Linked DNA regions of Homo sapiens: regions 1, 2, 3, 4, 6 and 7 are each linked to region 5. The links come from fine-mapping of genetic effects on gene expression. A gene starts in region 5. Each other region holds a variant in brackets. All regions are shown on one strand. Distances are from middle to middle.

Region 1 (4,062 bases), 81 kb before region 5:
CAGGCTGCCCAGCAGCGGCGAGGCTGCAGCCACGCCCACCATGTCCATGACCGTGGTCACCAAGGAGAAGAACAAGAAGGGTGAGGTGGGGCAGGCTATAAGGCCACACGGCGCAGAAGGGCGGCTCTGTGGGAGAGGGCGGCTCGCAGTCAACAGGGATGACAGCCCCCGGGCTGGCCTCGGGCAGCCCACATGCGCAGGCAGGGGCGGGTGGGGTGAGGGAGCCTGAATCCTGAGGGCAGTGAGGGTCAGGTGCTTCTGACCAGAGCCTCAGGCGGAGGCCAGCTGGGTGGGCAGGAGAGCAGCTGTCCTCAGTCACCGTGGAAGGCAGGTTTCCTAGGTGAGCAGTGCCATGACCAGCTGAGCCCCCAGTGCCTCCCCCACACGTACCCCTGGCCCTGGCCCCAGCCCCGAAGGAGCAGCAAGATGACAGCAGGGCCTCTTTTCTCCTCCCAGTGATGTTTCTGCCCAAGAAAGCGAAGGACAAGGACGTGGAGTCTAAGAGCCAGTGCATTGAGGGCATCAGCCGGCTCATCTGCACTGCCAGGCAGCAGCAGAACATGCTGCGGGGTGAGCACCACCGGCCCCGGGGTCTGTAGAGTGGGACGTAGGTGAGAGCACAGCAAGGCTGCTTTGGAGCCCAGCCTAGGAGCTGCGGGTGTCTCGCTGTGACACGCACATTCCACGATTCAAGGTGCAAGCACATTCGATGAAGCCCTCAGTGAGGCTGACAACCTTCCAAATGCTGAGAAAGAATTTTTTTTCAACCCTTTTTGCTTTTTAAAAATAATGACTTGTTTCGTTTTTCTTGTTTGTTTTTTGTTTTGGTTTTTTTTTTTTTGAGACAGAGTTTTGCTCTTGTTACCCAGGCTGGAGTGCAATGGTGTGATCTCAGCTCACTGCAACTTCCATCTCTCAGGTTCAAGCGATTCTCCTGCCTGAGCCTCCCAAGTAGCTGGGATTACAGGCGCGTGCCACCACGCCCGGCTAATTTTTTGTATTTTTAGTAGAGATGGGGTTTTACCGTGTTGGCCAGGCTGGTCTCAAACTCCTGACCTCAGGTGATCTGCCTGCCTCGGCCTCCCAAAGTGCTGGGATTATGGGCGCGAGCCACCGCACCTGGCCTAAAAATAATGGCTTGTAGTTTAAAAGTGTTGGCTGAGCGCAGAGGCTGAGGCAGGAGAATGGCGTGAACCCGGGTGGCGGAGCTTGCAGTGAGCCGAGATTGCGCCACTGCACTCCAGCCTGGGTGACAGAGCAAGACTCCGCCTCAAAAAAAAAAAAAAAAAAAGGGGTTTTGGAGAAGATACTCTGCAAGTAACTGTTTCAGAAACGGAGCTCTGGGAGGCTTTCCTCTTTTTGAGCACGGGTCAGATGACCTCCAGGTCGACGTGGCCCTGTCTCCCCACAGGGGTCTCTGTTTTAAGGGGGCTCCCACTGTCTTCTTCCCACACCTGTGCAGGTGGAAGTGGATGTGGACGAGCAGCGCCTGGCGGAAGGTGGTGGGGTCTGCTCCTTCCACCTGCAGGCAGCCCTGGGGGAAATGCTGCCCTCCCCACCCCCCAGGGCTCTGAGTGTGGAGGGCAGGGGCAGGAATGGCGTCCCTCAGGAGCCAGCATGGCCCTGGAGCCCCCGAGTCCCTGAGGAAAGTGTTGATGCCCTCCAGCATGGGGCTCCTTCTCATCCTGTACGCCCGGCTGCCACCCAGCCTGGTGGGCCAGGCAGGCAGGTGGATAGGGTGGGCAGGCCGGGCAGGGGGGCAGGCGGTCAGGCAGCCCTCTCCCACAGTCCTCATCGACGGCGTGGAGTGCAGCGACGTCAAGTTCTTCCAGCTGGCCGCGCAGTGGTCCTCGCACGTGAAGCACTTCCCCATCTGCATCTTCGGACACTCCAAGGCCACCTTCTAGCCCCACCCACCAGGGGGCCCACCTCCTGCCCCATGCTGTGAGGGGCCCAGCTGCATTTCTGTTAACATTTCAGTTTACTACAGAGACAGACGCTTAAAACACAAAGAGAAACAGTCTTAAGTATGAATGTGCTCACAACGTGGAAACTAACGGGGGAGCTCCTGCCAGGAGCCGAATAACTGCTCTGCTTATTAACCCGAACGTTCGGCCCGGGGCTGGGAAGCCAGAAGGACGATGCTGAGCCATGGATCGCGGAAGGCGTCCTCTGGCCTCAGGAGCCACCCAGAGCCTCACAGGCTGAGTTCTTGCCTCTGTGTCCTGTCCTTCCTGGAAGTCAGGACTCTGCTTCCTCAGGGAGCCCGGGGAAGGCGGAGCTCAGTGGCCACAGGCCGAGGGCCATGGGGCCGCTCAGTCC[C/T]GTTGGGGTTGTCCTGAGTTGAGCCTGGGGGGGCCGTCCTGCCCGCCTAAGAGATGCCCCCAGCACCGCACACTCGTGGTTCCCAATAAACTCCTGCCTGCGGCGGAGGTTTTATAGCAGCAGATATTTTTAATGCTTTTCAATACATGTTCTAATGTAGCTGCCAAACATGTTGCTCTTCTGAAGTCCCCCTGGGGCTGGGCAGAGCCAGCAGAGCCTGCCCCCACTTCCCCAGCCCCTGCCCCACCCCGCCTCACACCTTCCCCACTCTCAGGCTGTTCTTGAAACACCATGAGGCTTCTGCGTGTAGTCCCTGCCCCAAACTTAGCAAGCACAGGGGCCTCCACAGCCCAGGTGGCCCCAGAAAATGTTCCAGAGCCCAGCTTGGTACATAGTGAGATGCTGCTGGGGTTGGCCTGAGGTGGGGGCCACTTCCTCCACCCCAGTGGGTATGTCTGAGGTCAGCCATGGGGATATCTGGGTTGAGATTCAGGTTTTGGTGAATATGGGGCAGGCGTCCAGATGTGTTTGTGTCACCTGCTGCAACGCTGTAGCCAATGAAGATTCCAGCGGGATGGCCTGACCAGCGGGGCCGGCACTTTGGAGCCGTGGGTGCAGCCAGGTACCCCGTGCAGGGCCTGGGAGGCTCTCCAGGCCACAGTCCTCAGAGCGTGTTGGGTCCCATGTTGTGTGTGGGTTCCATGCCCTCCACACAGCAGGAGAGGGCTTCCCTGACCACACCTGCCCCCTCAGTCCTGCTTCTCCCCAGTAAGCCTGCACTGTGGGGTCTCCATAGGAGGAGCTGGGGAAGCTGGGGCCCTCCCAGGGGTCCTGATCGACCCTGGGGGCTCTTGGCCTGGTTTCGTAAGATGGAGCACTGCAAAAGGCCATGCTCAGAAAGCAAACGCAGGGCAGGGTGGGCCTCGAGCCGGGGCTGGAGGGGTCTCCACCCTTGCTGGCCTGAGAGATGGCCCACATTTCTTACTTGTGACCGCCCTGCTCTTCCTGGCCGCCCCCCCCAGGTGGCTGAACAGGGTGATTTTGTTGTGGTGAGGGGCCAGGATGTGGCCTGGTGTGCAGCCTCAGCTCCCTGGGTTCAGGCCTCAGAGGTAGCCTGTGTGCAGGAGGCAGAGCCCCAGCCCCTCCCAGCCAGAGCCCCTCCACACCAGGGACTCCTCCTTCACCTGGGACCAGGAGCCTGGGGCACACCCCAGGGTGGGGGAGAGGGTAGGAAGGTCTCCCATTGAATCCTGGCTTCAGGCTCTGCCCCGAGAAGTGTCTGCGGTGAGGGTGTGAGCCCCGGGCTGATGGCCTCTGACCCCGGCAACAGGTGGGACCCTGACTGACTCGTTCAGCTGCCCCCAAGCTGGGCTGCAGAGCATCTGTTTTTCTGCTCTCCAGTTTCTTTTCTTTTTTTTTTTTTTTTTTTTTGAGATGGAGTCTTGCTCTGTTGCCCAGGCTGGAGTGCAGTGGCATGATCTCAGCTCACTGCAGCCTCCGTCTCCCAGGTTCAAGCAGTTCTCCTGCCTCAGCCTCCCGAGTAGCTGGGATTACAGGCGTGTGCCACCACACCTGGCTATTTTTTTTGTATTTTTAGTAGAGATGGGGTTTTGCCATGTTGGCCAGGCTGGTCTTGAACTCCTGACCTCAAGTGATCCACCCGCCTCGGCCTCCCAAAGTGCTGGGATTACAGGCGTGAGTCACCGCGTCCTGCCTGCTCTTCCTGTTTCTTTCCCAAGG
Region 2 (4,062 bases), 65 kb before region 5:
TTTTTTTTTTTTTTGAAACGGAGTCTCACTCTATCACCAGGCTGGAGTGCAGTGGCGTGATCTTGGCTCACTGCAACCTCCGCCTCCGGGGTTCAAGTGGTTCTCCTGCCTCAGCCTCCCAAGTAGCTGGGACTACAGGCACCCACCACCACACCCAGCTAATTTTTGTGTTTTGTTTGTTTGTTTTTTGTTTTTGAGACAGAGTCTCGCTCCATCACCCAGACTGGAGTGCAATGGCATGATCTTGGCTCACTGCAACCTCTGCCTCCTGGGTTCAAGCAATTCTCCTGCCTTAGCTTCCCAAGTAGTTGGGATTACAGGTGCGTGCCACCATGCTGGGCTAATTTTTGTATTTTTAGTAGAAACAGGGTTTCGCCATGCTGACCAGGCTGGTCTCAAACTCCTGACCTCTGGTGATCTGCCCGCCTCGGCCTCCCAAAATGCTGGGATTACAGGCGTGAGCCACCGTGCCCGGCCGCACTGCCTCCTTTTCATTCCTCTGTCTTGCATTCTGTCCATGCCCCACCGCAGAGACGAAGGGTGTAGCGCCCCTTCCCCATCCTCCCACCAGCATTCTGTCTACTCAGCAGAAACCCAATTCCACTGTTAGCTTTACAGTGACCATGTGGCATCGTGACCGTGGGATGGCCGTGTTGCCTTTGTGCTGTTTTCCCTGGAGGAAATCATTGTGTTCCCCCCTCCTCCCCCTCCCCCTCCTCCTGCTCCTCCTCCTCCTCCTCCCTCTTCTACGAACTGATTATTCTTTCCTAAACCTTCCAACAAATCTAGGACTCTCCTCTCACAGACCCCTGTACATTGGGTCGTCTGGAGCTGTGTTTTCTCCTTGGCAGTGGCCTTCCTGGAGCCCTGGACTGCCAGCAACCAGCCCAGCTGGCAGGGCCACTGAGTAGCCTTCCCCACTCCCTCTCCCCTCCCCCTACAATCCGCCTGCCTCCTGTCTACAGGACCCCTTGTTTCCTGGGCCCCAGCTTGTTCTCCTTGGTTTATCCTTTGTTTTGGTGGAGTACATCTAGCAGCTTCCTCCAAAAGGGTTCAGAGGATGTGAAAGTTTTTGAGACTCTAAAGATATGAAAATATCTTTATTCTGCCTGTATGCTTGAATGACACCTTGGTTGGGTGAGATACTAGGTGGGAAATAATTTTCTTTCAGGATTTTAAGGCTTTGTCCATCACCTTCTAGCTTGCAGCGCTGCTGTGTGGTGGTGCCCTAGACTATTAAGACTTCTTCTTCTTCTTTTTTTTTTTTTTTTTGAGACAGAGTCTTGCACTGTCACCCAGGCTGGAGTGCAGTGGTGCAATCCTAGCTCACTGTGGCCTTGAACTCCTGGGGAGTTCAAGGGGATGGAGCGATCCTCCCTCCTCAGCCTCCTGAAGTGCTTGGATTATAGCTACTGTGCCCAGCCAGGATTTTCTTACATTTTCTGTTTCTTTCTCCCTTCCTTTCTTTCTTTCATTCATTCTTTCTTTCGTTCTTTTTCTCTCTTTCTCCTTCCTTCCTTCTTTTTCTTTCTCTCTCTCTTTTTTTTTTTTCCAGAGTCTTACTCTGTCACCCAGGCTGGAGTGCAGTGGCAAAATCACAGTTCACTGCAGCCTCAGCCTCCTGGGCTCAAGCAATCTCTGCCTCAGCCTCCCCAGTAGCAAGGACTACAGGCATGTGCCACTGAACTTGGCTAATTTTTTAATTTTTCTTTTGTAGAGATGGGGTCTCACAGGCTGGTTTAGAATTCCTGGCCTCAAGCGATCCTCCTGCCTTGGGCTCCCAAACTGCTGGGATTGCAGATGTGAACCATGGCGCCTAGCCTCCTTACCTTTTTTGTTTGTTTGTTTGAGACGGAGTTTTGCTCTTGTTGCCCAGGCTGAAGTACAATGGTGTGATCTCGGCTCAGTGCAACCTCCACCTCCCGGATTCAAGCGATTCTCCTGCCTCAGCCTCTTGAGTAGCTGGGATTACAGGCATGTGCCACCACGCCTGGCTAATTTTGTATTTTTAGTAGAGATGGGGTTTTTCCACGTTGGTCAGGCTAGTCTCGAACTCCTGACCTCAGGTGATCTACTCGCCTCGGCCTCCCAAAATGCTGGGATTACAGGCATGAGCCACCACACCCGGCCAGCCTTTTTACTTTTTAAGGCTTAATAATATTCCATTTTCTGGATCTGCCACATTTTCTTTATCCATTGATCCATTGTGGAAACCTGGATTCCTTCCACATTTTCGCTATTGTGAATAATGACCACTGCTGTGTTGGAGTGCGCACATCTGTTTGCCTTCCTGCCTTCAACTCTTTTGGGTACATACCCCAAAGCGGAATTGCTGGATCCCATGCAATTCTGATTTTAATGTTTTGAGGAATGAGAATTCACTTCGGGTTTGCATGAATCCCACTCTTAGCATGGCACTGCCTTCTCTCCCCTCTCCCCTTCCCCCTGGTGAGGGAGGTGGAGGATGGTGAAC[C/T]TCAGGCTGAGCAGAGTCTGGAGGAACCGTCTCCTGCAGCCCACGTGGGAAGTTCCTTCTTGGGGGATAGAGGTCGTGCTGGGGACCTCACCTGCTTCTGGCCTTTCCCTGTGGCCCTCCCACAGCTTCTCCAGCTGGTGGTCCCTGCCCTCCAGTCTCCTGTACCCTGCCAGGGGCCCTCCTCCACTGGCGCTGGTCTTTTGTCTATGGATTCATGATCTTTATTTTCTCCCGAACTCTCTTTATGATCATTTCAGAGGGGTCTGGGGAGAAGGGCAGTCTGGAGCTGGCCTTAGTCCTGCCTTTCCTGAGGCACGCATCAGTGCTCGAGCTCCGGGGGTTCTCCTGCCGGTCAAGCCGGGGGCCGGCCGTGAGGACTAAGCGGTCCACAGGCAGCCCTGCTGTACATGAAGCGGGGCAGGTACTGGGTTGGGCGGTGTCCTGGCACAGATGACTGTGCAAAGCCACAGAGGGCCACACTGCCTGAGGCCCCGCGCCGGGAGCTGGCGCTGGAGCAGCGGGAGGCTGAGCAGACGGCGCTTTAGAAAGCGCCCGGGGGCGAGCTCTGAGGGTCGGCGGGTGCTGGGTGGGAGCGGCGAAGGGGAGCTGGCGCCGAGGCCCTCGCCGACCCGCTGCCCTGTCCCCCAGGTGTGCGAGCCGCCGGAACGCAGGCGCCCGGGCCGCCGCTGGAGCGTCAGCATCGACGAGCGCCGGCGGCTGGCCACGCTGGGCGGCCGGGAGAGGCCGGGCGCCGCCGGGACCCAGCTGCACTGCAGGGTGCGCGGGGGGCGGGTCCTCCCCGCCCCGTCCCCGCCCCGCCCCGCCCCTCCGCCTCGCCTCCCTCGACTCAGTCCCACTGGGCCCTTTACCCCGGCGCTCCCGGGCCCCGCCGTTGTCCCCTTCCCGCCCCTCGAGGCTCCCTGACCACCCTCGCCCGCAGGACGTCGTGCAGATGGTAGCCCAGCTGGTGTCGGAGGACGTGGACAAGGACGTGCTCCTTCCCCACCCGCTGAGGTCCACCGAGTCCACCAACGCCTTCCAGGCCTTCCTGGCGCGCAGTGCGCCTTTCTGGCATAATGCGACTTTCGAGGCCTCGAGGTCACCCCCTTCCTAAGAGCCCCATTCAGCCCATTGTCTGTCTTCCAGTGCCTTTCCTTGGGGGCCCACGGTGGGGGCAGCCTCTGCGCCTTCTTTGTGCCCCACCAGGGGGTCACCACCCACCCATGTTAGGAAAACAGGCCAGGCAGGACCTGGCTCCGGACAGCCTGCAGCTGCTGAGGCCTTGGAGACCGGGCTAGGGGCTATGGGAGGCCATCTAGGGGAGGGGAACACTGCCCCGGGTCAGTCTGAGAGGGCCCTGGCAAGGCCTGGGTAGCAGGAGCTTGCCCTCGGGGCCGCTGGGAGGAGGCCTGGGGTACCTGGGCCTGCCTGAGGTGCACTGGTGTCCTGGGAAGCCCCAGTGGCAGGCGCTGCCTGGAGACTCAGCTCCTTGGCTGGCCTGGTCTGGGGAACTGGGTATCTGCCTGCACCAGGCTGTGAGATGGGCCAGGCAGAGTTCTCCAGGGGGCGGGGTCTCACATTGGGTCCTG
Region 3 (4,062 bases), 20 kb after region 5:
GCTGCCAGTCCCTGCAGCCCGTCCCGTGAGGCCTGGCACAGGCTTTTGGCTGGATGTGGGCCTTCCTGCCCTGGCTTACCCAAAGCCTGAGCCCGTGGTTCCCGGTGGTCCTTGTAGGGGGCAGGGCTGGGCAGGGAGCCCAGTGGGGTGGGCAATGGTGGGCAGAAACGGGTGTCAGAGAGCTCACAGAATTTGCCTTTCTGTTCCCAAAAGTTACCAGTGGACTTCCAGCTCTGTGAACAGTGGGATGGGGTCTGTGCCATGAAAGCCACTCCCTCCTGGGCACTGGAGGGGGAGGAAGACAGCTCCTGTTGCCACCACATCCTGGTGGGGGCTGACTTGCGGGGTGGACAGCTCCTGTGGGGTCCTGAAGGTGGCAGGGGCTGGCTCAGGGGCACAGGTACCCAGTGGTGTGTCCACTGTGAGGCCAGCGCTGACAGGTGGGTCTGTGGCAGCGGCGGGCTCCCACCAGCGCGGGACTCCTTGGAGACCCCCCCATCCCACCCTTGCAGAGGGTCTGTTGCTCAGCTGGCCTTTCCAGGGACCTCTCACCCCGTCGGGCCTGGCCTTGGCACCAGCTGCTCCGCTTACTTATGTGCCTACCTGTGACCCTCTGTGCCACCTTCCAGCCTCCCTTTTTTGGGGAGCCTTCCCCATTTCCCTAGATCCAAGCAGTCGTTCATGTCCCCACTGTGAGCCTGGCTGAACTGCTGTGCCTGTCCAGAGGCTGTTCCTCCCCCGATGCTGCTGGGGAAGCCAGGGCACCCCACTCCAATCTTGCTGCTGCTTGGAAGCTGGGCGGGGTGGGGAGGCCATCAGTGAAATTGCCTGGCGCCCCCTTGCAGGAGACCCCAGCGGTGCTGATGGTTGTTCTGCACCCAGCCCAGCCCCGCCAACCTCAGGCAAGGAGTGGCTTTCTCTGAGCCCTCTTTCCTCATCTGGGAGGTGGGCTCTGATGGCCGACCTCCCTGGACTCATGGAGACTCAGCGTTGGGGGAGGTGCTTGACTGCCACTCAGCCTGGGGTCTGCACTACCTGTTTTAGATCCACCTGTACACACGCGGCTGCCACAGCGACCAGAGCCTTAGCCATCTGTCTGTCACTGAAGCAGAGATGCTCAGGGACCCAGAGGGAGGCCAGCAGGTGAGGGCGGGCAAGCTGCTGCGGGGGGGTGGGGGTGGGCTGGGGGGCACAGCAGGGGGACTGCCCAGGGTGGGAGGGGCCTGGGGGCGGGGCAGCTCTTGGGCCTCCAGCGGTGGGTGTCTCTGCATGTCTGCCACTGATCATTGCCAGCCTGGGTGACAGACAGCTTCTCTGGGCCTCTCCTAGCCTCATGGGCCACTCACCCTTCCCTTCCACAAATCAAGACGTGGCACGGGTGGGGGCCCAGGACGCAGGAGCCTGGGCTGGGCAGGCAGCTGGCTAAGGGCAGGCTGTTGGAATAAAGGAACACAGATCTCAGGTGTGAGCTGGTGGTGTTGGCATCTCAAGCAGGTCTCACTTGGTGTGTCAGGGGGCACCTAGGGGTGTGGGGGGCCAGCCCACACTGGGTGAAGGGTTGGGCACAGGGCTGACTGTGGGAGGGGACAACTGCCCTTCAGAACCCAAGGCCAGGCCCACATGGGGTGTGCTGGACCGAGCCTCCCAAGCTGGAGCCAGCTCCATAGGCCCTGGAGACTTGCAGTCCCGTTCTGCTTGCTACACCCGGACCACCCGGGGGCACGGCGCTTTCTAGGCAGGCCTGCCCCCGGCGACCGGGGCTCTGTGGTCCCAGGCAGATCCTGAGCCCTGGATAGCATAGACCTGGAGGAAAACCTGCCTCTGAGCCCCAGGTGGCTGTGTGACCTTGGGGAGACAGCATCCTCCTCTGACTGGGGCTGCTGGAGCACTGACCCAAGTGTTAGGGTTGACCTAGCCCCAGGCATCTTCCCCAGGGATGGCCGCTTCCTCGCACCCTGCTGCTGGCCTTCCATCCTCATCCTTCTTTCTGGGGGTCTGCCCGCCCGTCATCACTGGCTTCTTCCTCTTGGCTGGCTTGGTTTCAGGGGATAGGGCAGGGCTGGCTGCCACTCTTTTAATTTATTTTATTTATTTATTTGAGACAGAGTCTCGCTGTGTCGCCCAGGCTGGCATGCAGTGGCACAGTCTTGGCTCACTGCAACCTCCGTCTCCTGGGTTCAAGCGATTTTCCTATCTCAACCTCCTGAGTAGCTGGGACTACAGGCACCTGTCACCACGTC[C/T]GGCTAATTTTTTTGTATTTTTAGTAGAGACGGGGTTTTGCCACGTTGGCCAGGCTGGTCTCGAACTCCTGACCTCTGGTGATCCACCTGCCTCGACCTCCCAGAGTGCTGGGATTACAGGCGTGAGCCAACCACTTGGGCTGGGCTCTGTACTGTCCTGAGTGACGGGCTGGCACTGTCCTGCTCCAGGTGCATATGGCCGGGCAGGAGGGCAGAGGCTCAGGGCTGGTGTGACCTCTTCTTCCAGACCCAGTCCCCCTTCTCTGCCTCTTCCCTCTCCAATCCCAGAGACTTGGCCCCTGTACCTCATCCCAGGCCTGCCCAGGGGGACCTAGGGGTCAGAGGCGGATGGCCTGGCTCCTGGCCCCTAGTCTTGTGTCTGCTGGGGCTTCCTGCTCGTAGCAAGGGCCTGTGGGTTCCAGCTCTGCAGCCCAAGCCTGGGGGATTGCATGCCTCACTCATGGGCTTACAGGGCCCAACCCCTGACGCCTGCCTGGCCCCTGGTGCCAGCTGGACCTGTGTCCCTGGCTGAAGCCGGGCTGGCGCCCACCCAGTCAGCCTGCACTGGCGTTGGCAGTGCTGAGGCAGCATCCGGGCGTCCTGGTCTGCCCTTGTCCCTACCTGCCTTGTAGAGGCGGCTCAGCGAAGCCCAGGCTTCTGGCCCCTGGGACCCCTGGGTTGGGGCAGAGGAGAGGCTGCCCTGGCCCCAGGCTGCTCCTGCCCAGTGCCTCTGTGGGACCACCCTCTGTGGTGGGCTGGGGGGGCCTGGAAGTGAGGCCCCGCCCTCTCCCCGAAGCTGTGTGCGGCACTGGCCAGGTGGACTGGGGCCATGGCTGGCTTCCTTCCAAGGTTTCTGGAGCGGGAGCTGCCCAAAACCTGGACCTGGCCTACCCAAAGTGCCTGCACTCCTTCTGCACTCCTGGGATGGGTCCCAGAACCTTCTGGAATGATCTGTGGCTGGTATGTGAGCAGCCAGGTCTGCTGCCGGGTGACTGGGCAGCACCCTTGGATCCTGGTGGGGCCTCAGCCTGCAGCCTGCTCTCCCCTTTTAGGGCGGTAAGTCGGGGAGGCTGGCAGGGAAGTGGAGACCGCAGGACTTGGGGGTGGGTGGGAGGGGGTGGCGAGGGGGTGTGTTTGCTCCTCCTCTCCTGCCTGCTCCCACCCCTGGCCCTTACCTTCTTGGGAACTGTGGTGATTGCCTTCTGTCAGGTGTGTTGAAGCGGCCGTACCCATGGTGGAGGCCTTTGCTCTTCTTGTGGCGTGCTGGGGTGGGCAGGTGGGCTGCAGCCCCGGCACCAGCCTGCTCCAGCTCCCACACCGCCCACAGACCTCCCTGTCCTCATATTCTCTGACCGCAGGCCTGCCTGCCTCTGCTCTGCTCCGCCCCAGAGGGGCTGGGTTGGACCTGGTGTTCAAGGCCATTCCTATCTGCCCCCCAGCCCACTGCTGGAGCCCCAGGCCCCTGCAGCCTGCTCCACACTCTGGGTTCCCGGGGGAAGCAGGGGTAGAGTGGGGCAGGATTCAGGTGTAGAGGGCCTGTCCCCAGCAGGGGTCCCCTTGCCCCGGGCCCAGGGTCACTGGTACAGATAGCCCATGAGCGAACCTGGGAGGCCTTCCGTGTGTGGGCAGAGCAGCTGCTGTGTCCTGGCCATTCTCCAGCCGCCTGTCTGTGGGCACTGTGGGCAGGTACCTTTGTGCAGGGCCATGGGGCAGGCAGGGCGGGGTCTCCTGGCCCTGCCTGACCCTTCACTTGGGAATGTCAAGTGTGGCTCAGCTCTGCCTTCTCTGCCACCTGGGTCACTAGGCAGACTCCTCACTGCCT
Region 4 (4,062 bases), 99 kb before region 5:
CTTGGGTTAGGCAGGGGTTTCTTAGATGTGACATCAAAAGCATAAGCAACAAAAGGTAAGTTTTTCTGGACCACAGCAACATTTTACAGTTTTGTGCACCAAATAGTGCCATCAAGAAAACCGAACAGTAGAACAGAAGAATGTTTTTTGCAAATCATATATGTGATAAGGGGCTTGAATCCAGAACACATAAAGAATGCTTATAACTGAAAAATAAAGACACAGACAGTCTAGTTAAAAGCTGAACTGTCCATTGCTTTGAGAACGATGCAGCCTCAGGTGCCACGGAGCTGGGGCCCGCCCACTCCTGCCCTGACTCGCTGCTGTCCACTTGTACTGAGAAGTCGACCAGGAAGCCGCCTCGTGGCCACGGCTTTTAAAGACACCGGGAGGACACCTCTGGAGCCCGTGGAGTGATTCCTTGAATTAGAATTACCCTGACCAGCTGCAATGTAAAATCCCTGGAGGTGTGTGCTGGCTTATGAGGGGCACGGAGAAAAACAATCTCAAAGTGAAAGAACCAGTTCTGATGCCTGCCAAGTCTTTGAGAATCACTAAGAGAAACACACCTTGTGGTGAAGGTTCTCAGACACAGGATCACTTCCAGACGAGAATCCATAAGCAGCTCGTGGACCTGCCTGGTCCATCCTGGATTGTGAGGCTGATTGCTCTGTTGGAATTGAGCTGCGAGCCGCGGTTGACATCACCATTGCAGATGCTTAAGCCAAGTGTTTTAATAAAGTGATTATCACTTGTCAGAACCAGGCACAGTGGCTCACACCTGTAATCCCAGCACTTTGGGGGCTGACGTGGGAGGATCACTTGAGCCCAGGAGGTCGAGGCTGCAGTGAACTATGATTGTGCCACTGCGCTCTACCCTGGGCAACAAAGCAAGACCCTTTCTCAAAGACAAAGAACAGTGAATTGTCCAATTAAAAAATGGGCAGGGGGCTGGGTGTGGTCGCTCACACCTGTAATCCCAGAACTTTGGGAGGCCGAGGCGGGTGGATTACAAGGTCAAGAGATCAAGACCATCCTGGCTAACACGGTGAAACCCCATCTCTACTAAAAATACAAAAAGTAGCCGGGCGTGGTGATGGGCGCCTGTAGTCCCAGCTACTCAGGAGGCTGAGGCCGGAGAATGGCGTGAACCCGGGAGGCGGAGCTTGCAGTGAGCCGAGATCGTGCCACTGCACTCCAGCCTGGGCAACAGACAGTGCGAGACTCCATCTCAAAAAAAAAAAAAAAAAAAAAATAGGGATCTTTCTAAATAGATTTCTTCAAAGACACACAAGTAGCCAATAAGTACACGATCATCATGATCATTATCACTGGTCATTAGGGAAATGTAAACCAAACCACAATGAGACACTACTTGATCCCCACTAGGATGGCTGGAACAAATGAAATGCAACAGGGTGAGGTGTAACAGCAGGAACCCACACCCTGCTGGGGGAATGTAAGGTGGTGTGGCAGCCACAGGAAGCAGTTGCCAGACACCCAGCACCCCTGTTCTTCAGTGTTGACTTCAGGGAGGTGAACACACACATGCATGGACCCACTCAGACGTTCACAGCAGCTTCATCTGTGATGGTCATAATGCCCGTCAGCTGGTGATCTGTTAGACTGGGGTCCACCCACTCAGTGGCGCACTGCAGAACCATCAGAGGAAGTGAATAAAGGAAAGAGGTTTAGTTGACTCACAGTTCAGCATGGCTGGGGAGGCCTCAGGAAGCTGCCAATCATGGCAGAAGGGGAAGCAGGCACCTTCTTTATGGGGCAGCAGGTCGGAGTGGGTGCCTGCAGGGGAAATACAAGATGCTTATAAAACCATCAGATCTCTTAAGATGTGCTCATTATCATGAGAACAGCGTGGAGGAAACCACCCCCAGGATCCAGTTACCTCCACTTGTCCTGCCCTTGGCACGTGGGGCTTATGGGGATTACAATTCAAGGTGAGACTTGGGTGGGGACACAGTGGAACATGAAGTGTGCCACGCTGGGTGGATGACGCCCTCCTCCCCCCGCCACCGAGAGCTGCAGGCCACATGATTCCTTTTGGGTAGCACTCGGGAAAGGGCAGAATGTACAGGAACAGAGTGAGATTCGCAGGGCCTGGGGCTGAGGGAGGGGACGCACTAGAGGAAGGCAAAGGGGAGCCTCCTGGGTGTGGGGAGCACTTTCTGTCTTGGTTTTGGTGGTGGCTGCACAGTGGCCCACACCCGTCAGAGCTCACCTGCCTGCACCCAGGCCCTCCGTGCACCCTGGCAGCCCAGATGACTGCACCAGCCCAGGGGAGGTGGAGGAATGCCACACGCACCGGTACCTGGGGACCGGGGGTCCTCGGTGATCATCCCGAGCTCCAAGACAGAAGCTGGACTACAGC[C/T]GTGCTGAGTGGAGGGGTTTGGTGGCTGGGTGCCCGCCTCCTATTGCTCCTGCAGACTCTGGGGTCTCGGGCGCCCCCAGTGGGGCAATGTGGGCTGCTGCAGGGAACTCACGCGTGCCTGGCACCCGTGCAGGTCCTGGACTCGGAGCAGGACCCTGCGGAGCACATCCCCGAGGCAGAGGAGGACCTGGACCTCCTGTATGACACCCTGGACATGGAGCACCCCAGCGACAGCGGCCCCGACATGGAGGATGACGACAGCGTCCTCAGCACCCCCAAGCCGAAGCTGCGGTGAGCCCTACAGGGCGGGGCGGGGAGGAACAGCCATTTCAGATGCCCCGGCCACTCTGCGACCACTCTGGCAGACCCATGTCCAGCCCTGGAGACGGGGTGGGCAGGGCCAGCTGCCTCGAAGCCTGGGAAGGCTCTGGTGGCTGGAAGGAGGGGTGTGCGGCTGCCTGGCAGGCCCAGGCTACGGCTGCACTGAGCCAGGCAGCTTTCCTTTCATAGGCCAGGGGGTGCAAGCTCTGGGCTGGGGAGGACCGAGAGGGGTCCCCCAGGGTGCTGGCTGGGCTGGGTGTGGCACCCCGTTGTAGGGGATCCGTCTCTGGGGGATGCCCTGGGAACTGCAGGGGACCTCCGTTCACTCAGGTGGGGAGTAGAGCTCCCATGCTGGGTGCCCCTCCCTGAGGAGGAGGAGGCAGAGGCAGGTGGGGAGGGGGAGGGCAGGTGTCTCTGTGGCTGGATGGGAGGAGGGGCTGGCTGGGGTGGCCTGGCCTGGGCAGGAGGAGAGGATGCAGGGCAGGCAGCTCTGTGCATGGGTCTGGGTATGGAGGCCTCGGTCAGCTGGGGGCAGGAAGGCAAGCACACCAGGCAGAAGGCAGGTGCCAGCCTCTGGGCAGCTGCTGAGGAGCCAGAGGCCCCAGTCAGAGTCAGGAAGCTTGGTAGACCTTTTGCTCTCACACTTTTTTAACCTAAACAACACGAAGAAGGTGGCCTTGCTGCATGTTGGAGGCGCGGCCCCAGTTAGCCCTGCAGCCACGCAGCGGCCTCCCACCTCACCTGCCCCGGCCTGGCAGCCCCAGCCCAACTTGCTGCTCCTTCAGTTGCCAGCAGCCACCATAACAGGTGACCGCGGATGTGGCCACCAGAAACAGCCTCTGTTCCTCCTGTTCTGGAGATTGCCATCCCGAGGCTGTGGCCTCATTCTTGGCCAGGGTCTCGCTGGGCTCGGGTGGAGGTATTGGTGGCTGCCCTGACTGGGGCTCCGAGGTCATGCAGTGCAGGCCCAGCGTGGTGGTTGGTGGAGTTCAGCTCCGTGTGGCTGCGGGATGGGGGTCTGGCTGCCCTGCCGCCTGGTGGCCGTTGGTCATTCTTGCCTTCTGGCAACCGTCCTCGTACCCTGGCCCAGGGTCCCTCCTCCACCTTCGGAACCAGCAAGGCCCAGTGAAGTCCCCCTCACACTTTGGGCCTCCCTGGCCTTCCTGCCTCATCTCTTCTGCCTTCAGCCGGAGAAAGTTTTCTGTCTTTAACGGCTCACGTGATTCCATAGGAGACATCTTTGTGGCCCAGATCCTCTCCCATCTTAAACTCCGTGGTGTTGGCTGTATCTGCAGAGCCCTGGCCAGCTAGCATTCATAGTTTGAGGAGAGGCGTGTGCGTCTCGGGGCTATGAT
Region 5 (4,062 bases):
AGTGCAGAGGGGGAGCTGGTCAGGCTGGTCAGTCGGGCGGGGGGGCGGGGGGCATGTTTCTGGCCTGCTGTCACCATGGAAATGGCAGTGGCTGCAGGGTGTGTGTGCAAGGGAGGAGGGTGCTGCCACAGAGAGCCCAGCCAGGACCACCATGAAAGCCAGGAGCACCGAGGGCCTCTGGTTGGCTCACAAACATGCCTGGTGCACCAGGCAGAGGGAACAGGTAGGTCTCCGTGTCCAGCCCACAGCCTCCAAGACACAGGGGGAAGGGTGTCCAGAGTCAGCTGCCCCCATAGGGCCTGATCACTGGGCTTCTGGGATCTGCCTGTCTCCCAGGCCGACGCTCAGCTGGGGCCAGAAGGCTCAGAGAAGGGCCCATGGGGACAGAGCACCAGGAAGCCCGTGGGTGCGGAGGTTCCCCACCTGGGGCCAGGCTCTACGGGGCTCTAGGGCGGAGGCACTGTGGTGAGGCGTGGTCAGGCACGCCCTGGTTGGGAGGAGGCCAGAGTGGGGGTGTGGGGGTGCGGTGACTGGCATGACCCCTCAATCTCCCGCCTGACCCCTCGAGGTCAGGCCCTGGGCCCCCAGGCACGCAGCTGGTCCTGGGCGGTGCGGGAGAAGGGACTGGAGTGTCAGCCCCAGCCCGGGGCACAGAGGGCACGCCCACTCCTTCCCCTCCTTCCCTTCCTAACTCCTCACCGCCTCCCCGGCCGCCCCCTGGGTGGAAGTGCTTGGGGTGGACGCCTTAAGCGCGGATCCCTCGGCGCTGGTGCCCGCCGCCCCTTCCCTGCCTGGGAGGCAGACGCAGACCTCCCCACACCCCCTACCAGCAGCTTCTCGAGCTGTTTCTGGAGGTGGCGGCGCCTTCCTTCCTGAGCCCTGCCCTCCACCCAAGGAGCCTTCAGCACCACAGACAGTGTTGGGGCGGGGCGCGGGCGGGGGCGGAGCGGGACATGGAGACCCGGACAGGGCTGGGGGCCGTGCCCGCCGGGAATCTGACTCCGCTCCCGCGGCGCGGCTGTTGCTATGGAAACCGAGCAACAAAGGGAAGCGGGACAGGCGCCGCGCGCGGCGGGGTGGGGGTGGGGTTCTCCCGGAGCCTGCGACCCCTTCCCGCGGCGGAGCGCAGCCTGGGCGCCCAGGGCCGGGAGTGTTGGACCCCTAGGCCCAAGTCACTAGGGCTCCCCGAGAGCCGAGGGCCAGGCTCCCCGCACCCTGCCCGCCGCCCCGGGGACGGCCCGGCCAGGCGGCCCCGACGTCGCCATGGAAACAGCCGGGGCGCGGGCGGCGCCGCGGTCGCCCGGGCGGGCCCCTGTAGACGCCACCTCCGGCGCGAGGGGCCCGGGGGCGCCAGGCCTGGCCCGGCTGCCCCGCACCCGCCACCCCCGGCAGGTGCGCCCCGCCCCCGCGGCGCCCCCAGGCGGCCCCCAGCCCGGGGGACGGGTTATCGAGGCCCCGCCCCGGCCGCGGAGCCAATGGGCGCGCGGACAGCCGGGCAGGCGGGGCTGGGCGCGGGCGGCGGCGGCCCGGAGGAGAACGGGCGGAGGGCGCGGGCCGACCGGGCGCACCGACCATGGCCTCCAAATGCCCCAAGTGCGACAAGACCGTGTACTTCGGTGAGTGCGTGCCCGCTCCCGGCCCGCTCGGTGCATCCCGCCGCCCTTCGCGGCCAGTCCCGCGCCGCAGAGCCGCGGCGTAACTCGGGGTGCGCCCGGCCCCGGCCCCGGACCGAGGATGCGCGTCCCGGAGGCTGGCTGGCCGCGCTGCCCAAGCGGCTAAAGCCAAAGGGTGGGGCTGCGCGAAAGCGGGGGCGGTCACGCCCGAACCCCGAAGCGGCTTGTGGGGGCGGGGCAGGGACCACCCGGGCGGGGCTTGTGGTGCCCCGGGATGAGGCCAGTGTTTGGGGGAGCGCTCGGGGATCCGCGGACGCATCCCGGTTCCTCGGACGGCGCCGGGCGGGGCGGGGCAGGGCGTGGCTGTACGCCCCGGGTGCGTCCCGCGCGCTCCCGTGGGCCTGGGCCCTTTCTCCTGGACCCCCTACACCCGCTTCCCCCGGGAACAAGTGGCCGGGAACAGTGACCCCCAGCTCCCACTCCGGGCTCCGCTGAGCTGGGCTGGGCCAGGTTTGGACTCTGTCGGGATTCAGTCCAAGCGGGGGCGACCTTGGCCTCTGCCTCCTGCTTGTCCCGACGCATTCCCTTGGCGCCAGTTCCCCCAGGAGTTTCACACGGGGGTAGGGTGGGGGCGGGTGTGACACGCGAGTTCCCGCGAACGTGAGAGGGACCTTGTGCTCAAGCAGCCCAGGTGTCCAGGATCCCTGCCTCCTCAAGGTCAGAACAGCCCTGGACAGGATGCAGGTGGTGGCGGGAAGAGGGATGTCTCGCAAGGCGGCCCTCGGTCTAGCCCCTCCGGCAGGCGCGCTCCCCCCGTCTGGGCTTACTCACTCTCTGGGCCTGGGTGCGCCCTTCCTACCCCCTTCCTCCTGGCTGATTCGCTGCCCAGCTTTCTCCAGGGTGGTAAGGTCCCTGCCCACCTACCCACCAGCTGCTGCACGAAGGGGGGCAGACTTAGTGAAGCAGAGAGGAGGGCCGGGACCAACAGGGCGCCTGCCCTGGTCGCCCCATACCCAGAATGCGGCCAGGCTGCAGGGAAGGCCGCCACTGGGCTTCCCCGGCTCACAGGCTGGAGGGGGTTGAGGGGAGGTTGTATTTTGCCCGTCCCAGAGGGGAGGGACCGGATTTGGCCTGGAGTGCTTCTGGCGTGGCTGGGAGCCGAGGGGCTTCCGGCTGCCTCTCCTGGAGCCCGCTCAGCCCTCAGTCTCTGTCCCAGCGAGGGCTGTCTCTGTAAGGCTTAGGGTGGGAGACGGTCCCCAGGGCCCTTCTGCAGTCCAACTGCCCATGACTTTACCCCAGGCCGGGCCAGGCCAGCCTGGGGCTCTCCAGGGTCTCGGCCAACAGTCCTGTGGACAGCCCGGAAAGGCCTGCCTGCCTGGCCCGCCCAGCCTCTCAGCGGAAAACAAAGGCGCTTCAGACCCGGCTGGCTTCTGTCCTGCCTGGGAGGCACTGTGAGGGCGAGGGTCCAGAATCCTGCCCACCCTCACACCAGGCTGCCCCCGCAGCTCATACCTGAGTAGAACCCAGGCTGGGATGTCGGAGCACATTGAGGAGGCCACCCCAGAGCCCATGCAGCCAGGGTGGGCAGCTGGTTTTCTTCTGAGCCATTAGACCCAATCGATTCTGTGTTCCCAACTCGGACCCGTAATGTGTGGCCATTGACCCACCCAGTGGGTCTGAGGGCCAGTTCCCTGCCCCCACTTGGCCCACGTCCCAGAGCTGGCCAGAGCACAGTGCTGGCAGCCCTGGGCTGCAGCTGCCACGGCCGATAGCCACCGAGACTTCCTTGCTGCTGCTGGGACACGCCTGCCCACCGTGCAGCCAGCCCCTGCCTGCCCTGGTGTGTCCCAGCTTCCTTGAGTGGAGTGGTTCTGGTCAGAGGGCTCTAAGCTGGTGCAGCCTTGTGGTTGGGCTGGTGTCCTGGAGGCTGGCCCTGGCCATGCCCAGAGGGTTGTACCAGGGCCACGGAGAGCCAGTATTCACAGCCCTCTACCTAGTAGGCCACCTGGGGGATCCCATCTCACTGCCAGGAGCAGCACCCTTGGGCCTCTCAGAGTGGGCTTCGCCCTAGCCAGATGCCCCTCCCCGATATCTGCCAGACAAAGGGGGCTGGGCCACTTGCTGAGAAAGGGAGCTGGGAGAGCCACTGGTCCTCGGCCACCTGAGGGGCTTGGCCAGATTCTGCCGGGCAGGGTGGGCCCAGCCTGCATGCTCCCTCCCCCCAGGGCCTGCAGCTTGTCCCCTTCCCTTCAGAATTCCGGCTCTGCTGGGCCCTTCCTGCCCCTCCCCACCTCTTCCTGCCTGGCTCCCTAGGGAGGCCCCTGCTTCCATCCACTGGGAAGCAGTCCAGTAGCCCCAGTGTGGGGGTGGGAGGCAGTGGCAGAGGGTCCCGGACCCTCAGCAGCTGCCCTCAGATCTTCCATGCCAGTGGCAGCCAGGGGCATTACGG
Region 6 (4,062 bases), 35 kb before region 5:
CTGAGCCCCGAGTCCCTGGGCCACGGGAGGTGGGACTGGGTCTGGCCTTTGGTGCCACAGGTGGCACTCTCTCTGTTGCTGTTTGCAGACTACGTCTACTTTGAGAACTCCTCCAGCAACCCATACCTGATCCGGAGAATCGAGGAGCTCAACAAGGTACTGGGGGGCCCTGGTGTTGCTGCAGGGGGGTAGTGGGTGGGGGCTACGCCAGCTCCTGCCCTGTGGGTGGCCAGTGTGGGTGGCCCCCTTTCGGGGCTGATCTTGGACTGGCCACTGCACAGGCCCTTCAGTGACTCCGTCCACTGTCACCTGCACCGTGGCTCCTCCTTGGAGATACTGAGTGAGGGGCCTGGTGGCCTCATGCAGGACCCAGCGCAGCTGCCCTGAGCTGCCTGCCCACTCTACACTTGGTCTGTGGGTGCTGGGTCCCCTGAAGATGCCAGTGTCCCCTGGGGAGCCCGAGCGGAATGGTGTGATTCTGAAACCAACCAAAGGCTGCAGAAAGCCATACTCGGTGCCCCTGCCCTGCCCGAACCCTGGCAGCCAGCCCTGCAGGGCTGTGAGCTCTGCCCCCACCCCTGAGGTGTCTGCATGGCTGGAAGCACCCTCCCTGGTCACTCAGGCAGCCCTGCAGGGCTGTGAGCTCTGCCCCCAACCCTGAGGTGTCTGCGTGGCTGGAAGCGCCCTCCCTGGTCACTCAGGCAGCCCTTGCTCCCACCTGGTTTGTGTCTGCCATGAGTCCTTGGCAGTTGCTTGCTGTTTGGTCGGGGGACGTGGTTGTGCCCATGCATTGAGCCTGGCAGCACCAGATCCTTCCTGGGGGGTGGTGACACATGGGCCCCTCAGCCCCAGCCACTCCTGGCCTCCACTGCCTCGGCACAGCCTCCGTCCCATCAGCTCGGGAGACAGAGCCGTAGATGGCCATGGAGGTGTAGGGCGCCCGCACACCCTGGGAGCCTTCTCGCTGTCCTCAGGGGTGGTGGGTGGGTCCCCCAGCGTCCCTTCTCCTCCTCCTGGTTGGAGACTTTCTAAGGGTGTTGAGGGAGGGCAGGTTGTCCCCACCAGTGGACACATGGTTCCAGCAGAGAGTGGGGTGGGGTGCTGGGTGCTTCACAGACCTCTCTGTGCCTGCCTGCAGGGCTCCTGAGCCCCCGATCCCCTGGAGCCAGTGGCCCGATGGCTGCCTTCTCCTAGGAGCCCTGCCCACTCGGCAGGCCTGGGGCACTCGGGCCCTTGGTGTTCCATCTGGATGCTGCAGGCTCACCTGGGAGAAGCTGCCTTCCTGGACCTCAGGCTTGGTGGCAGCGGTGACGTGGGGTTCTTGGGATCAGAGGGGGCAGCGGGGGGAAGGTTAGCGCGCCACCTCTGACGTAGCCATGCTGGGCTCCGGGCTTCCCTGGCTGCGCTTGTCGAGGGCCATTCCCTGCGGTATCTGCCACCACCTGGGGCCGAGGAGCATGGGGTGCGACATCTGCTCCCCCGCAGCTTCCTGGGAGGTCTGAGGGCCAGGCCTGTTTGTTGGAGGCACAGGCAATGACCTGGGTGTCTTCTGAGTCTGCCTCACTGCCCCTGCTGGGCAGGGCCTGCCCGCCTGCAGAGCAAGGCCACTTGGGTACTGCCGGAATGGGGCGCCACTCCTGTGGCTGAGCCTCCTGAGTGCGGGGCAGCACTTTACGCATCCCAGCATGTGGACTGTAGGGAAACAGGTGCAGAGGGAGGTTCCTCAGCTGACGCTGAACCATGGCTGGGGGAGGTCCTGTGTCCCTCCTGGTCTGTGTAGTGGAGGGGCGGCCGGCAGATGGCACTGCTGGCCCCACACAGCCAGCTGGCAGGCAACCCGGGGCGGGAGGCTGCAGTGCCTCCGTGGGCGCCTGGC[C/T]GAGTGCCACTGCTGGGAGGTGCCACTGTCAGGAAGGTTCCCTCGTGCTGCTTCCGGCTTCCATGTGCAGACAGTAGATTGCAGGCGTGTGCAGGCAGGGGGCTGGCTTCCAGCCCTTGGGCGATGTTCAGTTACACATGTAGCATTGCACACGCTCAGAGGCGTCCCCTTCGTCCTAGGACTCCCTCCTCCTCAGGGCCAGGGCCACATGGCGTGGGCACTTGCCTGTCTCTGGGCGGGACACCAGCCTGTGAGGGGCACGACTACTCTCTTGGACTGTTCAGGCAGGGCAGCCGAGCCAGACGCTCACCATGTGGAAAAGAACCCGCAGGCCTGCGACAGAGTGCGGCCAGTGCCCTCCACGCCAAGGAGCTCCAGGCGGGGCTTCCAGGTGGGCGCAGCTGGTTGAGTACAGACCTCCCCTCTGTTCCCTGGACTGAACGCCCCCTCAAATAACAAGAAAGTGGTGCTGGGGCTCTGCACCCACAGGGCAAGGAAGGTGGGAGAGGCGGTGCCACTGGGAGGTATGGGCACAGCTTGGAAGGCAGCCAGGCAGACTGGGCAACCTGAGAGGCCCTGGCCCTGGCCTGGGTCAGGATGGGGAGAACAGGAACCATGGTGACATGTGGCTGGCAGCGCGGAAGGCCTGTCTGGGGGGTCAGGTGGTCCCACAGAGCCCTTCCCTGGGCTGGAGCAGTGGACTCAGAGGACCCAGATTTGGGGCACCAGACCCAGGCCAGCACAGTTCGTGCGGGGGCTGGAAGTGGGGATCGCCTGGCTCATGGCCTGTCCCCTGGTGGGCCCCCCCGCCCCTCTTGCCTCCTTGGCTCCCAGGACCCTAGCGGCCAGACTTCTAAAGCCCACAGACCCAGCTGCTGGCATCGGGGACCCAGCAGAATGCCCGCTACCCCAGCACCCATGGGTGCAGCCCATGCAGCGAGCTGCCCAGCACCGGGGAGGCTCCCAGGGATGAAAAGCCGCAAGGCGTATGGGGCGGGGCGGGGGGGCTTTTAACAGGAAGGTCAGCCAGCACATGTAAAAATTGAACTCAGAGGCTGGACGCAGGGGCTCACGCCTGGAATCCCAGCACTTTGAGAGGCCGAGGCGGGCGGATCACAAGATCAGGAGATCGAGACCATCCTGGCTAATACGGTGAAACTCCGTCTCTACTAAAAATACAAAAAATTAGCCGGGCGTGGTGGCGGGCGCCTGTGATCCCAGCTACTCGGGAGGCTGAGGCAGGAGAATGGCGTGAACCCGGGAGGTGGAGCTTGCAGTGAGCCGAGATCCCGCCACTACACTCCAGCCTGGGCGACAGAGCGAGACTCTGTCTCAAAAAAATAAAAAAGTAAAAAAGGAACTCAGAGGAAGGGCCAGTGCAGGGAACAGAAGGAAACTAAAGCAAAACAAAGCCCGTGAATGTTCTCTGAGAAATGGATGGGATCCATCCTGGGATGTGGTCAGATGAGAGGAAAGCTCTTGACACTTGGGTTAGGAGAAGTAGCAAATGAAATGAAAGGATCAGGTGATAAAGTTGAGGATACCGCACAGAAGATGGGGCAAAAACACAAAGAAACTAGGAGAGAAAAAAATCAGACATCAGTCCATTGGTCCAACGTCCAGTTAATAGCAGAGAAGGAGCGAGCAAAGCAATAAAGAGGGGCCCCTTCAAGGTGTATTTAAAATTTTAGAACACGGGAGAAGAAATGTGTTTAGAGAAAAAGTGGGTCACACACGAAGCACCGGAGTCAAAACCCACTTTGCCTTTCGGCAGCCGCGTTCAGGTGTGGAGGCTCCACGCCCAGCCAAGCTCCATCTCCCGGAAGGCAGATGAGTGAGGTTTCCTGACTGAGGCCTTGGAGTGCACTCCTCCGCGCCTTTCCAACACGAGGGAGGCGCAGGTTCCTCCCGCCCAGGAAGATGCGGCCCCTGGTGCAGGCAGCAAGCAGGGTGGACCCCAGCTCTGGGAGGGGCCTCGCAGGCGCCCTGATATGAGCCCTTTCTCTTTGGGAGCTCTGCTGCCGAGCACTTTAGGGAAGAATCTGTGATGATTCCATGAAAAACTAGGCAAGTGGAGAAAAAAGACGATTGTTAATCTCAGGAAGCAAAGGTGTTCGAAGGAAGAGAAGAAAGAATGGCCTAGTGTGGCCTCACCGCCTTTACCTGTGTGTGCAGGAGCGTCTCAG
Region 7 (4,062 bases), 71 kb before region 5:
CGGATCACCTGAGGTCGAGAGTTGGAGACCATCCTGGCAAATGGGATGAAACCCCGTCTCTATTAAAAATACAAAAACTAGCTGGGCATGGTGGTGGGTGCCTATAATCCCAGCTACTTGGGAGGCTGAGGCAGGAGAATTGCTTGAACCTGGGAGTTGGAGGATGCAGTGAGCCGAGATTCCGCCACCACACTCCAGCCTGGGCGACAGAGGGAGACTGTCTCAAAAAAGTAAATAAACAGTATTCTGGAAACCGAAGCCCTTATAGTAAATCAAGAAAATGAGATGTGTAAATATCTGAAAAGATGACAATCACTATTTGCATCTAATATGTTACCTACTTGGAAAATCCAATTTAAGAAACATGAGTACAGATAAAAGAGGGAGTTTGGATATGTGATCACCATTCACAACTTTTCAACACAGTAAAAAGCAGAAAATGGAATGGAAGCAAAGGATACTATTCAACTTAGCAACAGGAACTATGAAGTTCTTAGAAATAAACCTGTTATTGGCCGGGTGTGGTGGCTCACGCCTGTAATCCCAGCACTTTGGGAGGCTGGGGCGGGCAGATCACAAGGTCTGGAGATCAAGACCATCCTGGCTAACACGGTGAAACCCCGTCTCTACTAAAAAATACAAAAAAATTAGCCGGGCGTGGTGGCGGGCGCCTGTAGTCCCAGCTACTCGGGAGGCTGAGGCAGGAGAATGGCGTGAACCCGGGAGGCGGAGCTTGCAGTGAGACGAGATTGCGCTACTGCACTCCAGCCTGGGCGACAGAGCGAGACTCCGTCTCAAAAAAAAAAAAAAAAAAAGAGAAACCTGTTGTTCAATTCCTTCATGAAGAACACTTTACAATGTTACTGAATAGCATGTAGAGCTCCTGATGGAGATGGTTATCATATTGGATGGGCAGATTTCATATGTGTGTTTTTGAGACAGGGTCTTGCTCTGTCACCAGGCTGGAGTACAGTGGTATGATCACAGTGTTACTGGAAAAGGGATCTCCATCTGGACCCCAAGAGAGGGTTTTTGGATCTCATGCAGGAAGGAGTTTGAGGCGAGCTGCAGAGTGCAGTGAGAAGAGATCATTTATTGAAAGCCGCTCCACTGCAGAGCAGGGCATCCTCAACAAGCAAGCAGAGGAACAGACCTACTTTGTTTTTAGTTTTTCTTATATCGAGGTCTTATCTATGTAAAGACCAAGCTGTGCCTACGTGTGGGTGGGCTGACAGCATAACAATTTATTATTCTATTGATTAAAAGGAAACTATTTTACATTTTAGTGTGCAAGTACATTAAAGCATCACTATAATTATCTTGAAAGCATATATTATTGTGGGTGTTGGGACATCTGAACTTCCTTTTCTATGAGTTTGTCCTTGTAGGCATTACCAAGCTGCTTCCTTAGCTGTAAACATCTTAGGTCCGTGGTTGTGACCTGTAAGGAATGTGCTCTATTAGTCTCAAGGTGGAGTTGAACATAAAATGATGTTATCCTGGCTCTCCTAGACTCCTGCTTCTCTAATCACAGCTCACTACAGCCTGGACCTCCTGGACTCCAGCTATCCTCCCACCTCAGCCTCCCAAGTAGCTGGGACCACAGTGGCATGCCACCATGCCTAGCTAATTTTAAAAAAATTTTTGCAGAGATGGGGTCTTACTGTGTTGCCTGGTGTGGTCTTGAACTGGGCTCATGTGATCCTCCAGCTTTGGGGTCCCAAAGTGTTAGGATTATAGGCATGAGCCATTGCGCCCAGCCAGATTTAACGTTTTAAACATGCCAAGCTTCCCAAAAACAATTCAGTGTT[T/C]TTTAAAAAAACAGACTTCATGAATCTTGAAAATTTCATTTTAAATGTACATAGTGATTCTGGAAATGTATTACTAGTTTACTTTTTAAAAAAAATTACAGACAGGGTCTCACTATGTTACCTAGGCTGGTCTCTAACTCCTGGCCTTCCTAAGAGCTGGGATCACAGGCATGAGCCACCATACCCAGCCTTTGGCAATGTATTGGTTATCCATTGCTGCATGACAAATTTCCCCAGAGCTTAGCAACTTAAAACAGTAAGTATTTTTATCTTAGTTTCCGTAGGTCAGAAATTTGGGAGCTGCTTAGCTGGTGGCTTTGGTTTGAGATCTCTCAGGAGCTTATAGTTGAGATAGCAGTCAACACTTCAGTCATCTCAAAGCTTGAGGAAGGCTGGAGACTGCTTCCACGGCAGCTCACTCACATGACTGGCGAGTCCATGATAGGGGCTGGCAGGAGGCTCAGCTCCTTACCACGTGGATCTCCCCATAGGACAGCTTCAGTATCCTCAGTATGGGGGCTGGCTTCCCCCAGAGTGAGTGAGTGGAGAGAGTGAGCTGAAAGCTGCAATGACTTCCATGACTTAACCTTGGAAGTCACACTCCTCTCTTTCTACAGTATCCGTTTTGGATACACTGGTCATCCTATTTAGTGTGAGAGGGGACGACACAGGGGCATGGATACCAGGAGGTGAGGATCATTGGATGCCATCTTGGAGGACAGCTCTCACAGGCAGTCATTTAGTCTATACGCTTTAAGAAATTATGTACTGAGAAGCATAATAGTGAAATTGTAGAATGCCAGCGACAAAAACCTCAGAAGCAATTTGAGTGGGAAGACAGAACCTTCAAAGCAGCCACGGGAGCTCGTCACAGTAGAGCAGTAGCATGCCTGTGCTCAGGGGAAGCCATGCTCAGCCTGGAATAGCAGGCCCAGCAAAAATGGATTATACAAAGGGCTAAGTAAAGTTTTTAAATGATAAAAAAGAGAATTTGCCCCCAGCACACTCTCACCTCAGTTCTGAAGAAATGATCTCAAAGCATCATGAAAGTGATGAAAGGTCTGAAATGGATAAAGCATGAGAGGAAGTAGGAAGTGTCTGAGTAAACTGAAACTGACAGTCACTGGATGTCACTCATGCACAGAAAAGCAAGGATACAATCAATATATGTACCTGCAATGGCATAAATGTCAAGATGGTGCCTGTGAGTGGAACTAAAGTGTTCTCAGTTCCTCTGAGAAGAGGAGGGGGGTGGGCCATGGTGGCTCACACCTGTAATCCCAGCACTTTGGGAGGCCTAGGTGGGAGGATTGCTTGAGCTCAGCCTGGCAACATGGCAAAACCCCATCTCTATAAAAAAATCACAAAAAGTTAGCCAGGCATGGTGGCATGTACCTGTAGTGCCAGCTACGTGGAGGCTGAGGCAGGAGGATCACTTGTGTCTGTGAGGCGGAAACTGCAGTGAGCTGAGATTGCACCACCACACTCCAGCCTGGGCAACAGAGCCAGACCTTGACTCAAAAAAAAAAAAAGATCGAGTTGCTTGTCATCTTTGGAGTTAGATGAGTTTGCCTGCCCTCACATATTACAGCAGAAGAACAGAAGGAGATACGATGGCAGATAGAATCGCCGGTACGTCATTTAATTCAGTCAATGAAAACGGACTAAGTGTTCCAGTTAAAAGACAGACATTGTCAGAGTGGGTTGAAAACAACCAAATTCAGCGGTAGGGTTGTGAACGTGTGCAGCGGTAAGCACAGGAATATTCCAACCGCAGGGTGAAGATGGACACCAAACGGCCGTGCATCAGTTCACATTGCATTTTTCTGTCAAACAGCAAACTTACCTCGGATTTGGGAATGTGGTTGTGTGGACGCCTGTTGCGTGCAGCCGTGAGCGTGAGTCTCATAGACCTGTTCCTGAGTGAAAGAGGCAAAAAGGTGACAAAATTATTCATGCCATGTGGCTTTGTTCAGAGTTCAAAAGCATGCAGAAGTAAACAAGATATTGCCAATATTCATTAAAGTATAATTTGAAAAAATAAAGATGTTTTAAAATGTTTACTTGGAAAAGGAACCATACAACAATTTTGGAAAATAAGAGCAAGGCCTGGCTTGTCCGCACCAGCTCCAACAACTAAAACTGTGTGGCCCTGTGGCAGAAGGTGGCAAAGACACCACTGCCTGGACAAGTAACCCGGAAACCAACCTGTGCATAAATGTGGGGATTTAATTTATGTTGAGCATGGCAT

What was found.
Region 1: its variant is fine-mapped to the expression of CRIP2 in whole blood (TOPMed, PIP 0.97).
Region 2: its variant is fine-mapped to the expression of CRIP2 in whole blood (INTERVAL, PIP 0.99).
Region 3: its variant is fine-mapped to the expression of CRIP2 in whole blood (TOPMed, PIP above 0.99).
Region 4: its variant is fine-mapped to the expression of CRIP2 in whole blood (INTERVAL, PIP 0.98).
Region 6: its variant is fine-mapped to the expression of CRIP2 in whole blood (TOPMed, PIP above 0.99).
Region 7: its variant is fine-mapped to the expression of CRIP2 in whole blood (TOPMed, PIP above 0.99).

The regions. Positions count from the first base shown.
Region 1 is chr14:105,392,766-105,396,827 of GRCh38, forward strand. PACS2 (phosphofurin acidic cluster sorting protein 2) reads left to right here. Exons shown (of 25, transcript NM_001100913.3): 23 at 1-80; 24 at 457-570; 25 at 1,789-4,062. The coding sequence ends at 1,907. Among named protein-coding and RNA genes, the nearest start is that of TEX22, 3.7 kb to the right of the region's middle. The variant C/T (reference allele first, on the strand shown) is at 2,323.
Region 2 is chr14:105,408,247-105,412,308 of GRCh38, forward strand. It overlaps TEX22 (testis expressed 22), which reads left to right. Exons shown (of 4, transcript NM_001195082.2): 3 at 3,122-3,250; 4 at 3,414-4,062. The coding sequence ends at 3,587. Among named protein-coding and RNA genes, the nearest start is that of MTA1-DT, 9.5 kb to the right of the region's middle. RefSeq lists silencers at 2,995-3,054, 3,155-3,284 and enhancers at 3,356-3,859, 3,860-4,062. The variant C/T (reference allele first, on the strand shown) is at 2,474.
Region 3 is chr14:105,492,791-105,496,852 of GRCh38, forward strand. It overlaps TEDC1 (tubulin epsilon and delta complex 1), which reads left to right. Exons shown (of 9, transcript NM_001367178.1): 5 at 1,045-1,143; 6 at 3,090-3,296. Among named protein-coding and RNA genes, the nearest start is that of TEDC1, 3.6 kb to the left of the region's middle. The variant C/T (reference allele first, on the strand shown) is at 2,241.
Region 4 is chr14:105,374,249-105,378,310 of GRCh38, forward strand. PACS2 (phosphofurin acidic cluster sorting protein 2) reads left to right here. Exons shown (of 25, transcript NM_001100913.3): 9 at 2,520-2,677. It also overlaps the pseudogene RPS20P33. Among named protein-coding and RNA genes, the nearest start is that of TEX22, 22 kb to the right of the region's middle. The variant C/T (reference allele first, on the strand shown) is at 2,387.
Region 5 is chr14:105,473,290-105,477,351 of GRCh38, forward strand. It overlaps CRIP2 (cysteine rich protein 2), which reads left to right and starts at 1,532. Exons shown (of 8, transcript NM_001312.4): 1 at 1,532-1,616. The coding sequence starts at 1,574. RefSeq lists an enhancer at 1-506 and silencers at 535-584, 595-684, 775-924, 1,195-1,264, 1,445-1,554.
Region 6 is chr14:105,438,584-105,442,645 of GRCh38, forward strand. It overlaps MTA1 (metastasis associated 1), which reads left to right. Exons shown (of 21, transcript NM_004689.4): 2 at 89-156. Among named protein-coding and RNA genes, the nearest start is that of MTA1, 21 kb to the left of the region's middle. The variant C/T (reference allele first, on the strand shown) is at 1,877.
Region 7 is chr14:105,401,960-105,406,021 of GRCh38, forward strand. All of the region lies in intron 2 of TEX22 (testis expressed 22), which reads left to right. Among named protein-coding and RNA genes, the nearest start is that of TEX22, 5.5 kb to the left of the region's middle. The variant T/C (reference allele first, on the strand shown) is at 1,812.